Homo sapiens: one gene and its partners. The protein of the gene in region 2 purifies or fractionates together with the protein of the main gene of each other region. This does not show direct contact. Each region holds a gene or a part of one and is shown on either strand. Other genes may lie near its edges.

Region 1 (3,500 bases), on a different chromosome or scaffold from region 2:
ATATCAAGAGGTACCTGAGTACAGGGCGGAATGTGGAAATGGAGGTTGGATGCCCATAAGGGGAGGGGTCCACAATAAAAATGATATGTGATAATGATCCCACGTGTGTAAACTTATGTAGGTGTGATATAAGCATGCCTGCAAAAAGAGATAAATGAACCGGGTGCAGTAGCTCACGCCTGTAATCCCAGCACTTTGGGAGGTCAAGGCAGGTGATCACCTGAGGTTAGGAATTCAAGACCAGCCTGACCAATATGGTGAAACCTCGTCTCTACTAAAAATACAAAAATTAGCCAGGCATGGTGGTTCACGCCTGTAATCCCACCTACGTGGGAGGCTGAGGCAGGAGAATTGCTTGAACCCGAGAGGTGGAGGTTGCAGTGTGCTGAGATCGTGCCACTGCACTCCAGCCTAAGTGACAGAGAGAGATTTAAAAAAAAAAAAAAAAAAAGAGATAAATGAAAAGGTGATCACCAAAAGTTTTTTTTTTTTTTTTTTTTTTTGAGACGGAGTCTCACTCTGTCGCCCAGGCTGGAGTGCAGTGGTACAATCTCGGCTCACTGCAAGCTCCGCCTCCCGGGTTCAGGCCATTCTCCTGCCTCAGCCTCCTGAGTAGCTGGGACTACAGGCGCCCGCCACCACGCCCAGCTAATTTTTTGTATTTTTAGTAGAGATGGGGTTTCACCGTGTTAGCCAGGATGGTCTCGATCTCCTGACCTCGTGATCCGCCCACCTCTGCCTCCCAAAGTGCTGGGATTACAGGCGTGAGCCACCGCGCCCGGCCCAAAAGTATTTTTAAAACATTTAAACAAGTATCTAACATAAAACATTAAAGCCCTTAATTCCCTTGCTTCCAACTACTTGCTTGATTAGGAGCAATTAATTAAACCCACTATTTGATGTATGTTTTTCCTGATTTTTTTCTATGCATATAAAACACAATAATGAGATGATACATGCTACACATACTATTCTGCAGCAGGCGTCTTCCCACCATGGATCTTCTCCCATAACAATGCTTTACAGAACCACCATGACCTTTTGAATGGCTACAAAAGATAGCATGTATGAATGCATCATGGTGTGTTTTTTTCTCTAGTGATAGACAAGCTGCCTGAAATTTCTGGCTACTCCTAATGTTACAATAACTATCCTTGCACACAAACCCTTGTACTTGTAGGCAAGTCTAATGGGATAAATTCCTTAAAGTACAACACCTGGGTCAAAGAGAATGAACCTTTACAACTTTGATAAGTTCTGCCAAATTGTCCTTTAAACAGGTTGTACAAATTTATGTTCTCACTAACAAGAGTTAGAAAATGCCCTTTTCCCAAAGCTCTAACATCAGAAATTTTCAATGTTTTAAATTTTTGACAATTTGATTACAAAAACTCCTATCTTTTTAAACTGTGCATTTCTCTGATCACCAATATAGTCAAGGATCTTTCCTTCTTTTATTAGTCATTTATATTTCTTCTGTGAGCTGCCTGATCATACCCCTTGCTCAATTTTCTAGGTTCCAGTTAACTGTTCTCCCTACCTCTGGCTTCATACCCCTACACTAGGCCACCCCCTATATCTGCAGAATTGTCATCAAACACAAATCTGATCTTGTTCCCTCAATTTACAACTCCATAGTCCACAAAATTAAGTCTTTAATATGGCACCTTCCAAGATCCTCCATAGTAACAACGATAATGCAAATACAATAACATCAACAGAAAACGTTTCCTGAATGCATTATCTCATTCAATCCTCAAAACAACCCTTTGAGGTAGTAATTATTATCATCCCATTTTAGAGAAAAAGAAATTGAGGTACACATCCTCAACCACACTTGGCCTCTTGTCAATCCATCCTTATTTCAGCCATTCCCAACTACTTGTATCACTGTGCCCCTCTGCAGACTTCTGTGCTGTGGACATCCTTAGCCTGCACTGCCCTGCCTTAGGCCGCCCCTGCTGTTTGTTGGGTGAACAATGGCTAATCTTTTTAGACCCAGTTCAGGAAAGGCCAAAAGCTAGAGGAATGGTATTTCAGCACATATGATCAGATTTGGAAGTGATCTTAAAGAGACATCTAGTTTCACAATCTATAGACTATGGATTCCAACTCCCATTAGCGGGTCAAAGCCAGGGTTTTTATAAAATTGAAATAAAATAGAATAAAAAATATCAGAGAGCAGGGAGTGAAACTATGTATTGTTTCAAGGGCAGGCATTGTTTTGTGAAGGTTGTGTATGCCAGGTCCCAAAGTAAAATGTGTTTTTTACTGTGGGTAGAGGTCCAACCACCAAGCCACTCTCCACGCCAGAAGCCAGAATGATCTTTCTAAATCTGATTACGTCAGACTCTTACTTTGAAATTTTCTGTGTTTTCCTATTTCCATTAAGATTAAAGACAAAACAAAACACCTCACAATGCCTACCCAGGGCCCTGCTGGTCTCCCGTTCTTCTGAGGTCATCCCAAGCCTTTGAAGGTGCTGTTCCTGCCTGTACACTCTACCCTTGCCCTTTACACCTTCTAAGTCCCATTAATCCTTCAAGATTCTACTCAAATATCACTTTCCCCAAGAAACCTCTGCCTAAGTTTCTTGATCTAGTCTAGGTTGCTAGACTAGGACAGATCTCCAAATTATATACTCTCAATGCATACTGGACTTTTCTGTACAAGCACTCATCACAACCGTAATTAAATAATTATCTAACTGCTGCCTCCTTCCTTAGTTAGTTGGGTTCCTTTTGTATATTTCTAGCAACTCACTTTTGCTTTGCCATTCATAGGAAGCACTCAGCCAGTACTTGTAGAAGAATGAGTCTCCTGTCCAAAGCAAGAATCATCTTCTCTCAGAAACCTTTTCGTGACATCAGTCCTTACCCCATACAATGGACTCCTAATCATCATCGCACTAATGAGGGGTACCACTTAACAAAGCCAGTGTAATATGCTAGCCACACAAATGCTTTGCCTAGGACAACTCATTTTGGTCTCTCACAACCCCGAGAGAAAGGTACTATTTTACATACTCTTACAGTTGGGGAAATGGAAAATTTAGAGAGTTGTTCAAAGTTAAATGCAACCACTAAATGGCAGGGCTATCTAAACACCATTACTAGCACCTATACTACTGTATTGCATTTGTTTGTCTACACATATCTGCTGCTCTTTACTAGATTATATTCTTTGGAGGCAAGGACCAAGGCACAGGCACACAGTAGAGCCTCATTAACTATATTTGCTAAATGAATAAAGGTAGGTGGGAAAAGGCAAGAGTTCAGAGCAGAGCACTTTATAACATCATAAAATAACCTAGCTGGAGAGACCTATCCCCTCTCAGTGTAGGAATCTCCTAGAATTCCTAAAGAGTGTGACTTGCTATACCCCCCGCTATATGGCCCATTCTCTTGTTAGTTAACTCTAGTTGCTAGTTCACTTAGATTCTGCAAGCATTTATTGAGCATCTACTACATACAAAGCTCTATGCTGGGGACTGCAGACAG
Region 2 (3,500 bases):
CCTTTGAAACTCCTATTCTCTCCTATCCCCTTCCTTCACCAATCCAGTGAATATGTTCTATTAAGATCCTTAATAACGTTTGTATTGCTAAATCCATCAATCAGCAGGATACCACATTTATATTTTTGCCTCTTACCTCCTGGCTGCTCCTTCTCAGTCTTATTTGCTCAGTCATAACCCCTTCATCAGCAAATCCTGCTGCCTCTAAGCACACCTAGAATCTGCTCCTTGCTCATCGCCTCTCCATCACTCTGGTCTAAGCCAGCCTCATCCTTCACCGAATTGTTGTACTAGCTTCCCATCTGTTATATCTTCTTCTGCATTTGTCATCCTATAGTCTATTCTTAACACAATACACAGACTAATCCTCTTGAAATTTGAGTCAGATTATGTCACCTGACTGTTTAAAATCCTTCAGTAGTTTCCAAGTTAATTCAAAGTAACAGGAGAAGTTCTAATGGTAGCCTATATCGCCCTACACGTGATGAGGTCCCATCATCTCTCTCATCTCATTTCCTAATTCTCCCAGTCTTCATCTTTCTACTTTATCCAGATTACACTCTATAGTATTGCTTAAACGCGTCAGGAACTTTGTACTTAGTGTTTTTTTGTTTTTGTTTTTGTTTTTGTTTTCTGTTTGGCATGGTCTTCCCCAAGACAGCATGTCACCTTCACCTTCTCACTGAGGCCTTTTCTGATAGTCTGGCTAAAATCATAACCCTCATCCTTATTCTCACCCTGACCTTTCTAACGCCTTCTCTGGTTTATTTTTCTCTTTAGCACTTATCAACCTAACATATTTTATATTTATTCATCTTATATGTTTCCCTGACTACAATTTAAACTCCACAATGGCACAGATTTTTGTGTTTTGCTGTCTAATGCATAGCAAAGTTTCTAGTACATAATAGGAACTCAAAAATATTTTCTAAATAAATAAATCAAGCATTTATTTTAATAGTATTGGTTTTAGGTCAAAACCATCTAAGTATAAAATGAGTTCAGAGGCTCCTGTTTCCACCGTCACTAGGAAATCTATAAAACATTTTAAAAAATAACTCATGGGTTTAAACACTTGCTGGGAACTTGATCCAAAGGACTGAGTAAGTCATAGGTACTTTGTACTAAACTGCCATTTTTCCCCTTCTCTTTTCCTCTATTACATCTCACTTGTTGCAATCTTTTTTCTGAAGAGTGAAAGAAGGCCTCAACTTCAGTATAATTTAGAGCATTCTTGATTACTCTGCTCCAGTGGCCTATTCATGGCTTTAGCTAAATAAGATCTCAAATGTTAAAGGCAACCAGCTTTAAGCTGATGATATTTAGCATAAAGGTGTTTCTTCCTCATTGCTTATGCTTTTCCTGGTTATATTTAACCAGGAATAGTATACCTTGGAGTATATGTGTATGAATGCTTGCTCACACTGCTGTGCTAATGAGTTGCTGCATTTTACAAATAATATTAAGTTTTAACATTAAAAATTTGAGTTTTTAAAATAAAAATGCTAAAGAATTTTCATAGAATAAGGTCTTTCACAACATTTTTCCATTATGGTTTCTTGTCATTAGAATAAGAAGCCCAAATAAGATATTCAACAGAGGAGATAAATGTATGTATCTCTTACCTGAAGCCAACCCAGAGAGATCAGTTTGGTTTTCACTTTCCTCATCAGTACTCTCATCATAGACTGGATCTCGGTCAGCAGTCATTTCAGAACAGATTGCAGTTTCCCTAGAAACAGAGAAAGGTAGAATTATAAATAACTGGCTCACCCCCTGCTAGGCAGCAGATTTATCAGTAAGCAATTATAGAAAATATTCCTAGAAAAAGATTCTAATTAGACAAACATATTGAAAATATATATGATTTAGATGAAAGCATCTTAAAACCTATATATTAACTCTCTTAAGAACAAGTTTCTCTTTTACCTAATTTTAATCTGAATTTAGTACTTATTATAATTAATATTAAATCAGTTTCTTATCAGGTACTATTCTTCCATCAAAATACTTTTTCTAACAAATTATCTCTGTGAGTCACAGAGTATTTAACATTTTACTAATCTCAGAACAGTTCGCATTTCATTTGATCTCTGCAAAACCCTAAGATGGGTATCTTTACCTTTATTATGAAGATAAAGTGACTTGTCCAAAGCTATAAACTAATAGGTATGACTGCAAGACCAGTACCTGTGCTAGGACTAGCTGATATCAAATTTTTTTATACTACGTCACTGGTAATTCTGTACTTCTACTAAGATTCAAAGCAACAGACCCTAACTTGTATTTGCTAATGCGTAAAAAAGTTATAATCGTCGAAAGCCGTATCAGCCATTTGTCACTTAGGATTCTTCCATAAAAATCAAGTACATATGTACTTTCAGAGAATATGTGAAAGAAGAATAAAACTGATAATCACACTCTAATCAGATAAAATAAGTGCTCCCTGGAATTTAATATTAACCACTTGATTCTAAAGTTAATCATTGCCTAGACATCAAGATTACAAATATGCATCCAACTTTTGTAGTTCTGCAGATGAAAGTTTTTTTTTAAATTAGTATGTCTTACTAATGTCTAAGAATTAAATAATACTTTAATAAGCCTCATGTCAGTTTTTTAATTTAAGTGTAGGTGACACAGTTGAGCAGACATAGAGAGACCATGCTGAGAACTCTCTAGCCCATGGTACCCCTATCTAACAGCCTGAACATCCACATCCAGACTACCAAATTATCTCATATGATCAAAAAGTTGGCATCTAATGTTCATTAACTTTGGGAAGAAATTCCACTTAAATGTATTCATCTGTCATCCAAAAACAAGATAGCGAAAATACCCTTCTTGTTTGATGTCCTTTTCTCGTTCTTGAGCTGCATTTAATAATTTATTATGCAAACTTCTGATTTTTGTTTTCTTCTCATTCAACACCAGAATAAACCGCTTATAAAGATCAGTCTCCAAAGCTTCCTTAGCACTCACACATTTTTCAAATCTAAAAAAGTAAATAAGTAAACAAATTAGTCATGCAGTTCTGCTTAGCATTAACATAATTCAGCCTAATAATCAAGAAGATTTCAAGGAAAATACAATTAAAGATTATTTTCACATATGCTTTCACTGACTTGGAAGTTTTATAAAGATGGTTAAATACACAATTAGAAATTATTGGTTATTAATGTAATTTATTTACTGAGATAAGGATCAAAATTGAAAACTGATACAAATAAGCCTTTAGAAAATCAAAATGCCTAAAGATAATTTATTGATACATATGGTTTATTTACAAAAGAATGTTTTTATGGGATAAATTTCAAACAAGAGTAAATGTAGCCTGTTTCCTCAGTACTATGTTAATATTACTATAAAAGCAACTACAATCTTATTTTGTGATAAGGCAACATAGCTAATTTGTCTGATTTATCTACTAGACAACAAACTGCTCCACAACAAGAACACGACTTATCCAGTTATATTCTTATAAGCGAGCACCACACACA
Region 3 (3,500 bases), about 50 Mb from region 2:
CAAAGACTGATGCTCTTGTCTGTTGATTAGAATGAGAATACTCTATATTCACTGATGATCTATTATTCTACTAATATCATTTCCCAAAATTTAAAATTTGGATATACAATTTCAAAATAGAAATATAATTATGTAACATCTCTGCCAAATTACACCACTGTGTAGTATCGATTTCTAACTTAATTTATAACTCATTCTAATTCATTGATATGTTTTCCTATCACACGGAAATAAAATAACCAAAATAGATCTAGTTTTTAGAAATACACTATATACAATGGACCCTTCTATCCAAAATAGCTACACTGGAGACAAAAATCCAAGCTTTTAATTACTATTCAATTTTCCTATTTTATATATCCTAGGAAAAAACAGAAATTTAAATCATGAATTCATCTCAATTCAATAATACTCACTGGGCTTTAAGAAGATCTTTTTCCCGTTTCTCTAATTCAGCTCTAGCCTTGTTTCTTTCTTCTTCTTCCATGTCGAGCTTTGTTTCAAGTGCTTTTCTCTCCTCATCAATTTTTGCTTGCATTTCAATCATCTTGTCTGGGGAGACTTTCTTTTTTCCTATTTGAATCATTTAATTGCAACAATCACTAAAATGAATCAATGTTTCAGACTTATATAAATTACCTCCTTCAATATAGAAATGCCTACACTCCTCAATAATACAAAACCAATTATCAATATTTTAAGGAAATCAAACCAATAATATCATGCATTTCCATTTATTATGCTCCTAGAACTTTATAACTCATTGCTAAATTCAAACTGTTGTCCAATTGTACAATGATAACTAAGAACAAAAGCGAAAGAGAAGCAAAATAGATGAGCTAAATAATAGGAAAAGAAAGATTAACAGGAAAGCCAAATTAAAAAATATATATGTCCCCAGATAACAAATATAGGTTAAAAAAAAAGCAACATGATTCTTCAGTTACTTTTTCCTGATAACCAAGTATAAAATCAAGCGACTCCTTAAAATATCTTCCCCAAGTTCACATAAAACAAGTGAATAAAAGTCATATATAGGTATAAAATGCACAGATGAAAATATCAGGCAGAATTTACATCAAGTAGTTTTAATATATTTTTCAGAGTTTTTCTAAAATTTTTGTTTAATAACATTAAAGTATTTTATTTCACAGCATACTTTTAAAGGAAAAAATTCTATACTATGTAATTATGTAACAGTTACATACACAGTAATTAACCAAGCATTTCACAGTTGCTGAGCTGTCAAGATATATCATCATACACTAAAGGAACAACTAAAATAGCTTGTTATTATGTCAAACTCAGGACCCGAAGGCTCCCTAAGTCAGAGTAAACATGCCAAGTGTCAAATATAAGTAGAAATACTACCAAATAATAAAGCTGGAATATGGCTTCCAATTGATTATTTTTGCTAATAATGTCTAATAAAGTATTTTACATACATGTAATAGGTGCTCAAAGAAAGTTTATTAATGAATTTCAAAATAACAAAATCCAAATGAAAAAGAGAAAATAAAACTAGCTTATTAAACTGGTGATGAAACTGAATCAAAGACAATTCATTTCTGGTCATACAGTTTCTTAGAAACATACATTCCTTCAGAAAACCAATAACACTTTTCACAGAATTGGTCTGAGGCTCTCCTAGAACCTTTCCGTCATTCTTAACTTCCTTCCCAAAGAACTACAGAAGAAGAGTGTAAATCATAAGAGTGTATAAATTGTTAATGTCTCCACCCAAAAGCTAACCCCCACCACCTAACAAGGAAAAAGAACTGAAAAATAATTATGATGGAGATATATAACTGAGTATATTTTTTCAGGAACTATGAAATGAAGAATCATTAATAGGCTTTAACTCTTTATGACAAAATTATGTAAAAAACTCTAGGGTTTAAAATACATTATTTGTATAGAACTGTAAGTCCAGAGCAAACCTAAGACACAAGACAAATGAAATAAAAGAGTAAATAAAAGCACTGATCCAAATTCATGCTTTGGTGTGGTGTGATTCATTGCATTCCAAAAGTCAGGATGTAGACTGATTCTATTTACTGGCTTGTTTGGCACAGTCATCTGTATTGAATCTTTTGAATTAGCTGTTAAAAAATAACTTTAAAATAATTTAACTACTATTCCCAAACTACTTATCCCATCAGTCATACTATGTCTTAGAAATTTGAAGGAGAAAAGTATCAGTTCAGGTATATAGTAAGTATACGCATTTAAAAAAGTGTAACTTCCTTTCCACCTGAGAATTATAAATATTTAAAGACAAAATGGGACATATGTTAAGACAAAAATAATAAATGCATGAAGACACTGATGCTAACAGTATAGAGGAAATGATCTAATCAACATATGAACAGTAGTATGTACAGGCTTCAAGGGTTCTAATTGTTTCAATAGTTAAAAACAGTTTCAAAACCCATTAAGAAGCAGTAAAATAAAAAGTTTTTTAAATAAAAAGATTTTACATGTGGAAATACAAAGACACATAACTGTTCATGCATTAATGCATTACATTAGTAATTTAAAACCATTCAGGTATGTTTCCAAACTGATACTTTAGCAGCAAAAATCTTATTGTGGTCTTGTAACACTTTCATGAAGACAATCAAAGATATATAGCCAGGGTTAGTTTCAAAAGCCTAATATTTAAGTAACATATTACTTTAGCCAGAATCACTCTGACAAATCATTATATTTCTCCACAAATAATATTTTAAGCTAAATGTGAATATGTGCTAACTCTCCTAACCAGGTATTTAAAAATGTGACATCAGTAAAAGTCACTTTTATATGTATTTTTCAAAGGACTTTTTTTTAAAAAAACCTTCTTAAACCAATCAAACAAAAAAGAAATCTATTTCTAACAATGCATGATAAAATTCAGCACAAAATTTCAGGTAAATAAATATTTTTAAAAGTTAATGCCATAAACAGTATTTAACTAAACCAGACATAAGTAGCAACATTTTTTTATTGCCCTTTGCCATGTGCTCTAACCAATATTGTGAACGTTAACCGGCCAGGGTAAGTCAAAGGGGAAGAACTTCAGGGCAGTCCTAATTGAATTAATTTCATTTTTATTACATAAGCAACCACGGCATAACCAGGTATTTGATTCTTGGCTTTAAGAAAAAAGGAGAAAAATGTTTGAATGTGAAATAATTTACACTTGTATTTCCAAACTTTGGCTTAATGAGTCTTTAAGAATTTAGGGAAAAAAATGAAGTTCTTTTTAAAAGCTAAAGTTGAAAGATTGTTAAAAATACAAAAGATAGATACTTACCTGGTAAAAAAACTACTAAATTTTAAAAATTTAATGTATTTAAATAACATAGTTCTTTATAGGATAAATAATTGTACCATGTGGAGTGCAAATCAATCACACCAACCTGCTTGATCTTGCAATAAGAAGTAGTAAGCAAATCGCAGACAGGAAGCAATACGCACAGAGATGAGGAGGAAAAAAAGGAAAACATTATTTCTCT
Region 4 (3,500 bases), on a different chromosome or scaffold from region 2:
CTTGATATCCAGACTTCTGGGAGATTATCTGACTGGTTAAGGCAAGAGTGAAAGAATAACCTGAATGTCAGAATTCTCATTCTAGGTGGAAAGTAATTACTGTTAAAACCAGTCTGGGCCAACCTCTTCAACGGTATTTCCTAAAGACGTGTGCTTTAAAATGCAAAAGAATTAGAAGTATCCTAGTTGGATAAATTCTAGCACGCACATCTGTAAAACACAACACTATTCAATCACTTAAAATGTTGATGTAGGCCAGGTGTGGTGGCTCATGCCTGTAATCTCTGTGCTTTAGGAGGCTGAGGTGGGAAGACTGCTTGAGCCCAGGAGCTTGAGGCTGCAGTGAGCTATGATGGCACCACTGTACTACAACCTGGGCAACAGCATGAGAGCCCTGTTTCTAAAGAATAAGAAAGAGTTGATGGAGGTCTAGACTGATAAACATGGGCGGAAAGCCATGATATATTTTTAGTGAAATATGTGTGGTCCAACACAACAATGTACAATAGTCATTATTATAAAAATGTTTCAAAATATTAAATATTTCAGAACAAATACACAAGTTTTGAAGACTATACATATATAAAAATAACCAGGGGCCAGGCGCAGTGGCTCATGCCTGTAATCCCAGCTTTGGGAGGCCAAGGCGGGCAGATCACGAGGTCAGGAGATCAAGACCATCCTGGCCAACATGGTGAAACCCCGTCTCTACTAAAAATACAAAAATTAGACGGGTGTGGTGGTGCGCACCTGTAGTCCCAGCTAGTCAGGAGGCTGAGGCAGGAGAATCACTTGAACCCAGGAAGCAGAGGTTGCAGTGAGCCATGACGGTGCCACTGCACTCCAGCCTTAAGACAGAGTGAGACAATGTCTCAAAAAAATAAAAATAAAAATAAAATAAAATAACCAGCAGTTATTTCTGAATGATGGGATTATGGTGATTTTTCACTCATTCATGTCTCTTTCATGTGTTCTGAATGTTTTACAAACAACATGTATTACTTAGTTTTTAAAATTTGATCATTTGTTATCCAAGTAATTCCTGCTTGTATTTAGAAAATCAAATAGTAATGACTGTAATGAAAAACAGTCTCTCTACTGTCTGGATAAGACTCCCACACCTAGTCTTCATCCCTAAAGGTAACTAATTGCAACTCAGTTGTTGCTACTGGATAGTTAACTGCATTTCTCTAAATATTGTGCTTATCCTATAACTTTTTGGCTCATCCATTTTAGACATTATCGATTTACTCATGCTACTGTAGATTAGGATGTAGTTCTGAAACTACCCTCAATATCTCCTCCCTCTACTCTTCTAATATAGATACATCCCTATTTTTAATTGAACAAATAATCCGTGCTATATTGTTGTGACTGTAAGGCTATCTACTAAGTACTATATTATGAATACATTTCCTTCCTCAAAGAGCTTTTTGTTTTCCCTAGAGTTTTAATTTTTCCTTCTTCAATGGTTTTCTCCACTTTAATTTCAATTTTAATTGCTGTACCACAGAACTCACCCCCACCCCTTTATTTTCTCAGAAGGCTTCCCCCTCCAAACCCTCCTTCTTCTCATTACAATCTAGGCTGACTGCCCTCTAGATCTGCTGGCACAGCTGTCACCTTTGGTGTTTTCCTTTACTGCTTTTCTGGGTTACAGCCATTGTTTCCTGAATTCTAATGCCTCCTTCTTTCTTTGTTCACTCCATAGTTTTGCTGAAATACATCCCCAATACCTTAAGAAAGTAATATAAGAAAAGGCACATGGGTTGGCAACTTAGTCCTTGCATGCCTGAAAAGGTCTTTCCTCCACATTTACACTTGATTTAGCAATTCTCTCAGCTCTTGAAAGCATTGCTGTAAGTTCCTCTAGCATCCAATGTTGCCACTGATTTCAATGCCATTCTGTTTCATACAGCTTTAAAGGGATCCTATTTTCATTCTTTCCTCCACTCCCTCGTCATCTCCTTCCCTAAGCTTTCAGGATTTTCTCTTTTTCCTTGGTGTTGTGACATTTCTTGTTTGTTTTTTCTATCATTAGTTTTTCTGTGCATTTAGAAAGCCCCTTCGATCTAGAAATTTGCGGCACTTAAGCTCCGGGAAATTTTCTTGTATCCATTATTAATCATCATCTCTGTTTTCTTTGCTCTTTCTTGAACTCAAATGAGTCAGATACTGGAACTTTCAAACTGATCCCTCATCTTTTATGCATTCTGTATTATCTATCTTTGTCCTTTCATTTATTTTTGTAACACTTCCTTTACTATTTTATAACTGGAGGTTTTTTCAAAGCAAATTATAGTATGATGGAAAAAAAATCAAAGCAATATCTTCAATAAGGAAATGGCTAGACAAATTATGGTACATCCATTCTATGTGGTCATTAAAGAACGAAAACTATATATGCTGATATGTTTCAAGACATGTCACCTTAAAAACTTGTTATCTGCATCCATTAAAGTACAGAGAAAAAATTTAAAATGTCTGGCTATAGAAAAATAGAGGAAAATGGATTTAATTCTTTCAACGAATATTAACTAGGCACCCACTTGTTGCCTGGCACTATTCTAAATGCTGAGGATACGGTAGTGAGCACAAAAGTCCTCTTGGCATTTAGCTGGGGAAAGAGCTTAACTAGAAGTGGCAGCAAGTTAAGCGAAGTATTTTTTTTCCCCAAGCACTGTGAAGCACTGAAGGAAGAGGCCATAACAGGAGGAAAAATGGAGGCACAGAGAGCCAATCAACAGACTCAGGTTGCTGGAAAATCATACCACCAAGGGACTGCTAAGGATGGAAAAGACTTGCTTTGATATCCTGGTTACCAGAGAAAATGCTACATCATGTATCTGAATTCACATATTTGATTATGTTTCTGACAGTCACAAATCCATCCCTCTTCCCTCGTATCTCTAGTTTTCCTAGAAGTTGAAGATGGTAGGACATGGACTCATTTAAAATTATGTCTACAATTAATATGCAGTATGTTTGGACCCCTCTCCACTGATTTTAAGTATCATTTTATTTTATTTTTGAGATGGAGTCTCGCTCTGTCACCCAGGCTGGAGTGCACTGGTACAATCTCGGCCCACTGCAACCTCCGCCTCCTGGGTTCAAGCGATTCCCCTGTCTCAGCCTCCCAAGTACCTGGGATTACAGGCATGCGCCACCATGCCGGCAATTTTTATATTTTTAGTAGAGACGGGATTTCGCCATGTTGGCCAGGCTGGTCTCGAACTCCTGACCTCAAGTGATCTGCCCACCTTGGCCTCCCAAAGTGCTGGGATTACAGGCATGAGCCACCACGCCTGGCCTCCACTGATTATTTAGCAATATTTTTAAGTCTCAAGGGTTTGTCTTGGCCTACAACTTGACAAGGAGCTCAGGGCTACTGTCTCGTGGTCTGAGACAGTCAGGAGACAAAGTATATTTACTCCAAGTACCCATGTATGCTTTTTCCAAGATGAGAAGTTTTCTTTTTGATGTATAAGAGCAAATAATGT

The links. The genes of interacting proteins can lie anywhere in the genome.
Region 1: the proteins of XRCC4 (region 2) and MOV10 fractionate together in Homo sapiens (co-fractionation; one large-scale study listed by BioGRID). This does not show direct contact.
Region 3: the proteins of XRCC4 (region 2) and KIF3A purify together in Homo sapiens (affinity purification with mass spectrometry, with the first as the bait; one large-scale study listed by BioGRID). This does not show direct contact.
Region 4: the proteins of XRCC4 (region 2) and WDR48 fractionate together in Homo sapiens (co-fractionation; one large-scale study listed by BioGRID). This does not show direct contact.

The regions. Positions count from the first base shown.
Region 1 is NC_000001.11:112,677,659-112,681,158, reverse strand, and holds part of MOV10 (helicase MOV-10), read right to left. Parts: intron 1-3,500.
Region 2 is NC_000005.10:83,203,047-83,206,546, reverse strand, and holds part of XRCC4 (DNA repair protein XRCC4), read right to left. Parts: intron 2,996-3,500; coding exon 2,840-2,995; intron 1,733-2,839; coding exon 1,626-1,732; intron 1-1,625.
Region 3 is NC_000005.10:132,703,047-132,706,546, forward strand, and holds part of KIF3A (kinesin-like protein KIF3A), read right to left. Parts: intron 3,414-3,500; coding exon 3,405-3,413; intron 574-3,404; coding exon 417-573; intron 20-416; coding exon 1-19. UniProt on the Homo sapiens protein: Microtubule-based anterograde translocator for membranous organelles. Plus end-directed microtubule sliding activity in vitro. Plays a role in primary cilia formation. Plays a role in centriole cohesion and subdistal appendage organization and function.
Region 4 is NC_000003.12:39,055,016-39,058,515, reverse strand, and holds part of WDR48 (WD repeat-containing protein 48), read right to left. Parts: intron 1-3,500. UniProt on the Homo sapiens protein: Regulator of deubiquitinating complexes, which acts as a strong activator of USP1, USP12 and USP46. Enhances the USP1-mediated deubiquitination of FANCD2; USP1 being almost inactive by itself.